Homo sapiens: one gene and its partner. The protein of the gene in region 1 purifies or fractionates together with the protein of each later gene. This does not show direct contact. Each region holds a gene or a part of one and is shown on either strand. Other genes may lie near its edges.

Region 1 (3,990 bases):
TATGTCCCAGCACTAAGCTTAGCATTTTGTTATTTCCTTTCCTCTGTTCCAACCCTTTGAGGTTGATATCCCTGGATCCACTAATAAAGTGAAGAAACCTGTGAGGTTTGGGAGTTATTCTCATCCTGCACCTGATTCCTCCCCTTGGAGACAAAACCCTTGCCTCTTATGAAAGGTTGAGGAAACAATTATGAGTGCCTCATTTTGTCCCTAATTTTCCCCCAGCCTCTTTCTCACCACCTGCTAGAACTTCCTTGTCTCCCCTGACCCACCATGGAGAAGAGGCCAGGATATCCCTTGAGTGCAGGGGTCTAAGATTCATGAGTTGGGGAAGTATTTGCGCTAGCTTTGCTGTCCGCATGGCCAAGCTGCCTTCCCCCTCTGTCTTCACGTCTAACCAGCCTGCTCCACCCTCCCAGGGAGAAGAGAATAACAGCAAAGTCTCACCTTGAGGTGCCAAAGTTCCACCCGCCGATGGACAGTAGTGTTTTCAGCTCTCTGTTCCTATGATGTGAGAGAGAGGGTTGATGAGCTGGGTTCTTCACTCCGGTGGGCAGCTGCTGCCACATTCTTTTATTTTGCTCATTGGAAGAAAACAGGAAACAGGAGAGATGGGAGGTAAGGAAAGGAAAAGGGGGAAGGTGATAGAAGGAGAGAGATGATGAGCACAGGAGAGAGGAGGAAAGACAGAGAGAACAATCAACCCAAGGGCCATCACAGCCCAACAACTCCAAGGCTGCACAAAGTCTGCCAAACTCGCGCATGTCCCTATGATGCTTCCAAAAAAAGAGCAGTCTAAAATGTTTCTCTTTTTCCTATTCAACAAATATTTATTGAGCAATGTCTATGTGCCATTTACTGCTTTAGGCACTTTAGAACAAAGAACAACACAGATAAGCTCCCCACTTTCAGGGAGTTTATAATCTAGTGGCATAGAACTTTTACTCTGCCCATCTATAACCATTAATGCAGTAACAAGCCTTCCTTTGGGCACAGAGAGATCCCAGGAGTTCCGGAGAGAGGAAAATGTAAGCAAACACTTACTGAGCACCAACCCTGTGTGAGACACTGACCTAGCCACTGGGGATACAACAACACAGCAGACACTGCCCCTTCCCTGGAGTAGCTCACCGGTAACAAACGGTAATAAAAACATGAGCATTTGTTGAGCATTTGGGATGTGTAAGCCCACTTTAACAGCATTAATAACTAAAATCCTCACAACTAGGTTCAAAGGCTGAGTTGGGTTTTGCCAGGCAGAGAAGAGAGAGAAGCACATTCCAGGCAGAGACAACAGCAACTACAAAAGTAAGGAGGCAGGAAAGAGCTCAAGGTGTCTGTGACAAGGAGTTCTCAAGTTGGGGGTGCTCTGGACCCCTATTTGAGAGGAAGGTAGGACTGGAAGAAATAGAAGAAAGTTGAAGAGTAACAGGAGAAATAGACTGTTATCTTATACCTGTGAAATCTGAAAATACAACCCCCACATCCAATATGAACACACCTCTCCTTTAGTTTGTTGAACTCTGGGTAGAGAATTTTCTCATCCTGGAGATCCTTAGCAACAATCTGATTGTTGTTCATTGAGGCAAAGGCAAATATCAGGTGGGTGCAGAGAAAGGGGTCCAGGTCATGGGGCAAGATCGAGGCAGGGCCTGGCCGACTGTGTGCCCAGTTGGTGAAATAACACACGAGTTTATGGGCAGCACCTGGTAAGGGAGAGCACACATTAGTTGGCAAAAACCAAGGGAGGGGATGGAGCTCAGCTTCCAGAAAGCAATGTGAACGCAGCCCAAGAGACCAGGCCACATTTTCACATCCTCTCTCCCTGGCCCTGAAGTACACCTCAGAACTACACTGAGGTTCTATTCCTCCCCCACTGCTGAGGTCTCAGGAAGAAAACAATGCCTTGTGAAATCCTGGTCAGAACAGATTCTCAAGTCTGGACCAAGGCACACAGTCAGCGACACAAACAGCAGGTGACCAAAAATCCTCTGAGAAACTGTGTTGGATCAATAATCCCTGTCAGAGAAGCCAGGGCAAGGTGGGCTGCAGGGGACACTCAATGTGGAGGACTTCTCAGCCAGAGACTCTCCCTGGCTCTGGAAGGGAAAACACAGTTTCCTTACCATCGTGGTGTTTCAGCACAAGAACCAGCCCTGTGAGAAACAAAGGAAGGAGTCACACAGAGATTCATACCCTCACCAGAGTGGTATGGCACAGCACACCCTCTGATTAGCAAGGGTGCCCACCAACACACCACCTTATGCAGATGCAGACACACAAATGGGGACACACACACCATTTACTCGTTTCCTAGTTTCTAAAGTTGGACCAGTGGAGCTAGATATAAGTTCCTTTTCTTTTTGATAAACATGTGTATATGCTCATGCTTTGCCCAGGGACAATGACAAGTGTTAGAAGTCCCAGAAAAAGCTCGAGGCCAGTGGTTCTGAACCCTGGCTGCAAATTAAGAAGTACTGATATCCTGGCTGGTCATGCAGAGATTCTAACAGAACTGGTCCAAGGTGGAACTCAGGCATTTAAAATTTCTAATGGGCCACCAGGTTTGAGAACCACTGCTCTGACCACTTCTCCCTGGGTCCCTCTGACCTCTGACCATTAACTATGGCCCATCCCATCTCTACCTAATCTAGGCTTCCCTGAGTCTCAGGCTGCTCTCTCAGGCACCAGAGAGATGACGAACTCATAAAGCCTGGCACTTCCTGGACTGAGTGACACTGCTGGGACCTGCCACACTCACCAACCCACAGCAACAGCTTCCACATCTCAATGGTCTGATAGCTGTGAGTCCAGAGATGCAGCCCTTTATAGGAGCTTCCCTGTGGATAGCGCTGGGACAGCCCAGCTACACATACACACACACACACACACACACACACACACACACACACACACACACACACACCCCAGTGCCAGGATCAGTAATTTATGAGAGTCACAGTGACCCCAGAACGACCTGGCCTCCCTCTCCAACAAAGCAACAGCACCAGGTTGGCACTGAATACCAGGAAGAGGGTCTTCCTGGTATTCAGTACCACAGGGACTGAATATGGGGGAGAAACCCCATATGGTAGCAGCAATTCTATTATTAAAAGATTATTGGCTGGGAAGCAGCGTAATTTTTAAAAAAAGTTTAAACCATAGCTTTGGATTTAGGCTTTGAATCCAAGGTTTGAATTCAAAGTTTGAATCTCAGTGTCACCACTTAGAAGTTTTGTAATCTTGCACAAATTACCTGCCTCTGTGAGGTCAGTTTCCATGCTTGTAAAATGGAGATGACAGCTCAGACTTACCTCATAGAGCTTTATAGAGATCAAAGAGATAATGGGTCAAAAATTGTTAGTTTCGTGCTCGCATATAATAAGGGCTCAGTGAATGGTAGCTATTATTAGGGATGTCAAAAGGGTTGCCCAGCAGAGCAGAGTTCTCAAACTCAGATGACGCTTGCCAGGCAGGTAATGTAAATGGATGGTGTAGATGCAATAAAACAGCTATCTCTATTTTATTAGAAAAGTAACAGTTCATGCCCAATGATGTACATCAACTGACATGAAGCCTCTTGGTCAGGAGACAACAGAGATCAGTATAAAGAGGGACAGCACTCTGAGCAGCTGCTAATGGTTTCCCTGCAGGGAAACAGACCCAGTGTTGCTGGATCCTTCAGTTTCTCAGGAGAAGGCAAAACCTGAATTTTTATGAGTCAACAATATTTGAGTCAGTATATGAGCCAATTGTGAGGATGTGTCATGAACCTCAAGAATATGATGGATACAATTCTGGACATCTAAGAGCCAGTTTTTTAAAAATGCAACAACAGGAGTATGAAAGATAAAATATATATATATATATATATATATATATATATATATATATATATACCGTTTTTATTACCAGACTGCAAGCCAGATGCTTTTATGATTCATCAGTTTTCTTTCTCTGCTACAGAGGGTCTTGGACCTTATGCCCACC
Region 2 (4,021 bases), on another chromosome or scaffold:
GTGGTCTTCCCACAGCCTGGGGGGCCCCGTAGAAGGACACTGCTAGTTCCTGTCAGCAGGGCACCCCTGCAACCAGAGAACAGACATTCGTCTCCTTCATTTTGCCCAAACATTAGAGTCCCCAGTAACACAAGATCCCTTAGATCTAGAAAGCAGATACCCTGTTTTTCTCTCCTTGAGCCTCCCTGACCCCAGGACAGGGCTGTCCCCATGTAGTGAGGCTGTGTCTCCCACACCACCTGCGGTGCTCTGGCCGGGGCATCCAGCATATCCAACAGCCAAAGACTAATTAATTCCCTTTGGCATTGCTGTGCTGCCAATAAAACCTCAACGTTATGACTGGTCTGAATGGTATTGAGAGACATTGTGGTGGCACTGAGGTGGGGATCTGCGTCCACACCTGGGCCACTGGTATGAGGAGTTGTGTCCTTCAGGGCCAGGGCAGTAAAGTGCAGGATGGCCAGTGAGCTCCCCAAGGGGAAGGGCAGTCTCAGAAACAGATGCCCCTGCTGGAGATTCTTCCTCCAGAGCCAGCCCTGGAGGACAGAGGTTATCCCAGGAAAGGAGCCTGGGAATTGGCTTACAGAAAGGAGTGGCCTGGTGGCCTTGTGTAGGACATACTGGTTTGAGGAAGGTCCTCCCAATCCCACTCTGGCCAGTTCATTAGGAACTACCCATCTGGCTGCTGCTCCTCCAGGGATGTTCTAAGCAGGCTTTTCTCACACCCTGGGGTGATGACCTCACTCACCCTGGCTGGAGGCGAGGCTTCAGGACAGCACAGAGTTCAGACACCAAGGCCTCCAGGCCTGGAGGAGACAAACTGCTCCAGAGAGTGGATTCCTCTGAAGGGAGCCATGGAACAGGGCTCAGGGTAGAACCCACCTGTGAAAGGTAATAAAAAGCTTTCGTTTCTAAAAATCGTTTCTACCCCCTGCGCTGGTCTACACCCATCCTTGGGGCCTCACCATGTACAAGGAGGTATGGGTGGTGTCGGCCAAGTAGGCACTGGCTGGTCCATCTGGAGCTTCCCCAACTGTTTTCTTCACTTTAAAAAACATTTCCCGCCACCTGCAGGAAAAAGGCCCAATGAACCCCAGATCCAGAGTCCAAAAACCCCCCTCCTCAAGGACAAGGTTTCTCAATCACAGAGGACAAACAAAAGCACCACAAGAGCGTGTCCCGAGTCATGGTGGGGAAAAGGAATGCAGATGGACTTTCTCATCTTCCTGACAGACCATACACACCTTGAGGGCAAGAGCTATGCCTGTCCCTCTGCATCCCCCATGACAGCCATGAGAGCTCTGAGGGGGTGTGTTTCTCCAGGCATGTGGCCTACCCACCCACACCAATGGGAGAAGCTGCTGCTGCACTAAGCAGTGGATCATCTGATTACTTCTACTGGCTTCGGTCTCCCCCTCAAATACACAGCCATCCAGGCCCCAAAAACCCTAGGGGGAAGGGTCCCTTGGCTCTTACTCAATAATCCACAAAATCTCATTGCAGGCGGAGTCCTTAATAATGCCATCTGATGAATAATGGTTCTGTATTCTGGCTGCACATTGGAATTATCTGTGTAACTTTAAAAACTAAACATTTCTCACATATTATATGATTCTATTCAGCAGATCAGCAGTTGCCATTGCCTATGAGGGAAGCTACAGGGAATGACTGCTAATGGGTGCAGAGTTTCTTTTTGAGATGTTGAAAATGTTCTGGAATGAAACAGTGATGTTGGCTGTACAACCTTATGAATAAAAAAATTGAATTGTATACTTTAAAAGTATGGTTTTATGGTGTGTGAATTTTATGTTTTTAAAATTAACCTTTCTCCTTCCTTTGTGAAGGAAAAAAAGCACAGGCTCCAGTCTCACCCTGATTCTGCCCCAATAGATCTGGGGTGGGGCTTAGGCACCTGTATTTTTTGAAAGCTTCCCCAGCAATTCTGATGCATAACCAGGGCTGCGCAGTAGTTGGCGAGTGTCATAGTGAGTTAGGGTTATTCAACCTACTAACGGGGAATAGGATGGGTAGCAGGAACAGCTACTAACCCAATTTTCCAGATAAAGAAATCATGAACTACTTCCCTCTTTAATCCTCAGGCAGCAAGGCAATGACAGAGTCAGGCTATAACCTAGTCCTCTTTAAGGTCCAATCAGGCTGCAAATTCCTCTGCTCACACTGCCCCACAGTCTCAAAGCTGCTCTCTCTAGCAGCAAAGGGGTGTGAGAGTGCAGCAAGGTGGAGGGGAAGCATACCAGGTTAGTATTATGAAACTCTTCTAAGTACTACAGTAAACCTGGAACATCAGGAAGCCTGAATCTGCCTATAATTAATTATAAATAGGTGACAGTGGGCCTCTAACCTAGGATCTCGATCAAGCTCAACAGCTGAGTCATGGTGTGTATGACTCACCATGGAAGCCCTGCATAGGAATGAGATGGGGGACAGCACTGTGGCATAGGGAGAGACCACCTTCTTCAGTGGAGGGTGGTTGGACCACCTCAGTGAATAGAAAGGCCAGAGCTCTGGAACCTATGTGGACACTGCTAAGGAACACTGAGCTGTGCTCCAGCCAGCCAGATAGGTGATAGTGGAGCTGGCTCCCATGCAGCCTGGTTTGGGGAAGTGGAGCACCAGGGACAGGATGAAGAGGCTACACCAACAGTGGAATTCCTTTCCAGGGCTCACAGGAACTTCTGCAGGGCTTCCCTTCTCAAGCCCAGTGCAGCTTAAAACGCTCATCTGTATCTGTCCTTGGACCCATTGGGCCACTTACTCCAACCCTGCTTTCCTTGCGGGGAAAAGAACTATGTGCTCGGCACTCAGGAGGAAAGCAGGGTTCTACAGAGTTGAGACAATAGAAGTTCAGGAACAGAACTGGCTTGCCAGCCTGTCTCATGAGGTTCTAGTGCCTATTTTCCTTTGAAAGTACAAAGAGTGGGCATTCTGTAGTTTTCCTACTGAAAGCTAGCTCAAAGACGTTTGCTAAATTTATGATAGGAGAGAGAGGTGGGAAGTGACTGCTAAGTGCCAGCCTGGCATTTTCCACCAGACTCGTGGACTTAATCTGGAAAACCTCGAAGAGGTGACATGGAGCCTAAATGGGGTTCCACAGAGCACCACCACCCTGAGACTGGGGGTACTGAGCACTGGCCAGAACCAAGCACTGGATATTGACCAGGGATGAACATCAGGCACTCCAAACAAGGACTGTCTCTCCTGGCAGAGGACCCAGGCTGGCTATGCCACAGACCTTGGACATGAAGGCTCTTATGTATGAGTTAGTGCATCTATCAGCTGTGCTCTCCTTCTAGTAAACTGCTGCAGGAAATGAGTCCAGAATACAGGGAATGCTGGGATACAGAGCTATACATTTTCCTCCCTACACATAAGGCTAAAGCAGTGTCTCAATTCTTTGCCTCACCATTTTACATGGAACCTCTGTGGTCAGAGTCAACAAGAGGAGAAAAGCTGGATTCCTTATTTTGGGTTCTTGGCTCGGTTATGCTCTATTTCTCATTCTCTGTTGATAGGACAGGGTAGCCCTCTCAAAAACAATAGAAATCCCTGGCTGGGTGCGGTGGCTCACGCCTGTAATCCCAGCACTTTGGGAGGCCGAGGCGGGCGGATCACAAGGTCAGGAGATCGAGACCATCCTGGTTAACACGGTGAAACCCAATCTCTACTAAAAATACAAAAAATTAGCCGGGCGTGGTGGTGGGCACCTGTAGTCCCAGCTACTTGGGAGGCTGAGGCAGGAGAATGGCATGAACCCGGGAGGCGGAGCTTGCAGTGAGCCAAGATTGCGCCACTGCACTCCAGCCTGGGCAACAAAGCAAGACTCTGTCTCAAAAAAAAAAAAAAAAAAAGAGAAATCCCTCTCCTGTTTTCAGAGATAGGATTGAGAAGTAGTTTGTGCACACTCCGTAGTTAAGGCAGAAATCAGAGCCTGTATATCCTTACGTTGAGATATGGATGGTATGGCCCAAGTCTTGGTCCAAATAACACGAAGGCTAAGAAC

What was found.
Region 2: the proteins of OVGP1 (region 1) and PEX6 purify together in Homo sapiens (affinity purification with mass spectrometry; one large-scale study listed by BioGRID and IntAct). This does not show direct contact.

Annotation. Positions count from the first base shown.
Region 1 is NC_000001.11:111,424,936-111,428,925, forward strand, and holds the start of OVGP1 (oviduct-specific glycoprotein precursor), read right to left. Parts: upstream 2,801-3,990; 5' UTR 2,787-2,800; coding exon 2,762-2,786; intron 2,157-2,761; coding exon 2,127-2,156; intron 1,707-2,126; coding exon 1,502-1,706; intron 505-1,501; coding exon 448-504; intron 1-447. UniProt on the Homo sapiens protein: Binds to oocyte zona pellucida in vivo. May play a role in the fertilization process and/or early embryonic development.
Region 2 is NC_000006.12:42,968,920-42,972,940, forward strand, and holds part of PEX6 (peroxisome biogenesis factor 6), read right to left. Parts: intron 1,069-4,021; coding exon 966-1,068; intron 883-965; coding exon 749-882; intron 67-748; coding exon 1-66. UniProt on the Homo sapiens protein: Component of the PEX1-PEX6 AAA ATPase complex, a protein dislocase complex that mediates the ATP-dependent extraction of the PEX5 receptor from peroxisomal membranes, an essential step for PEX5 recycling.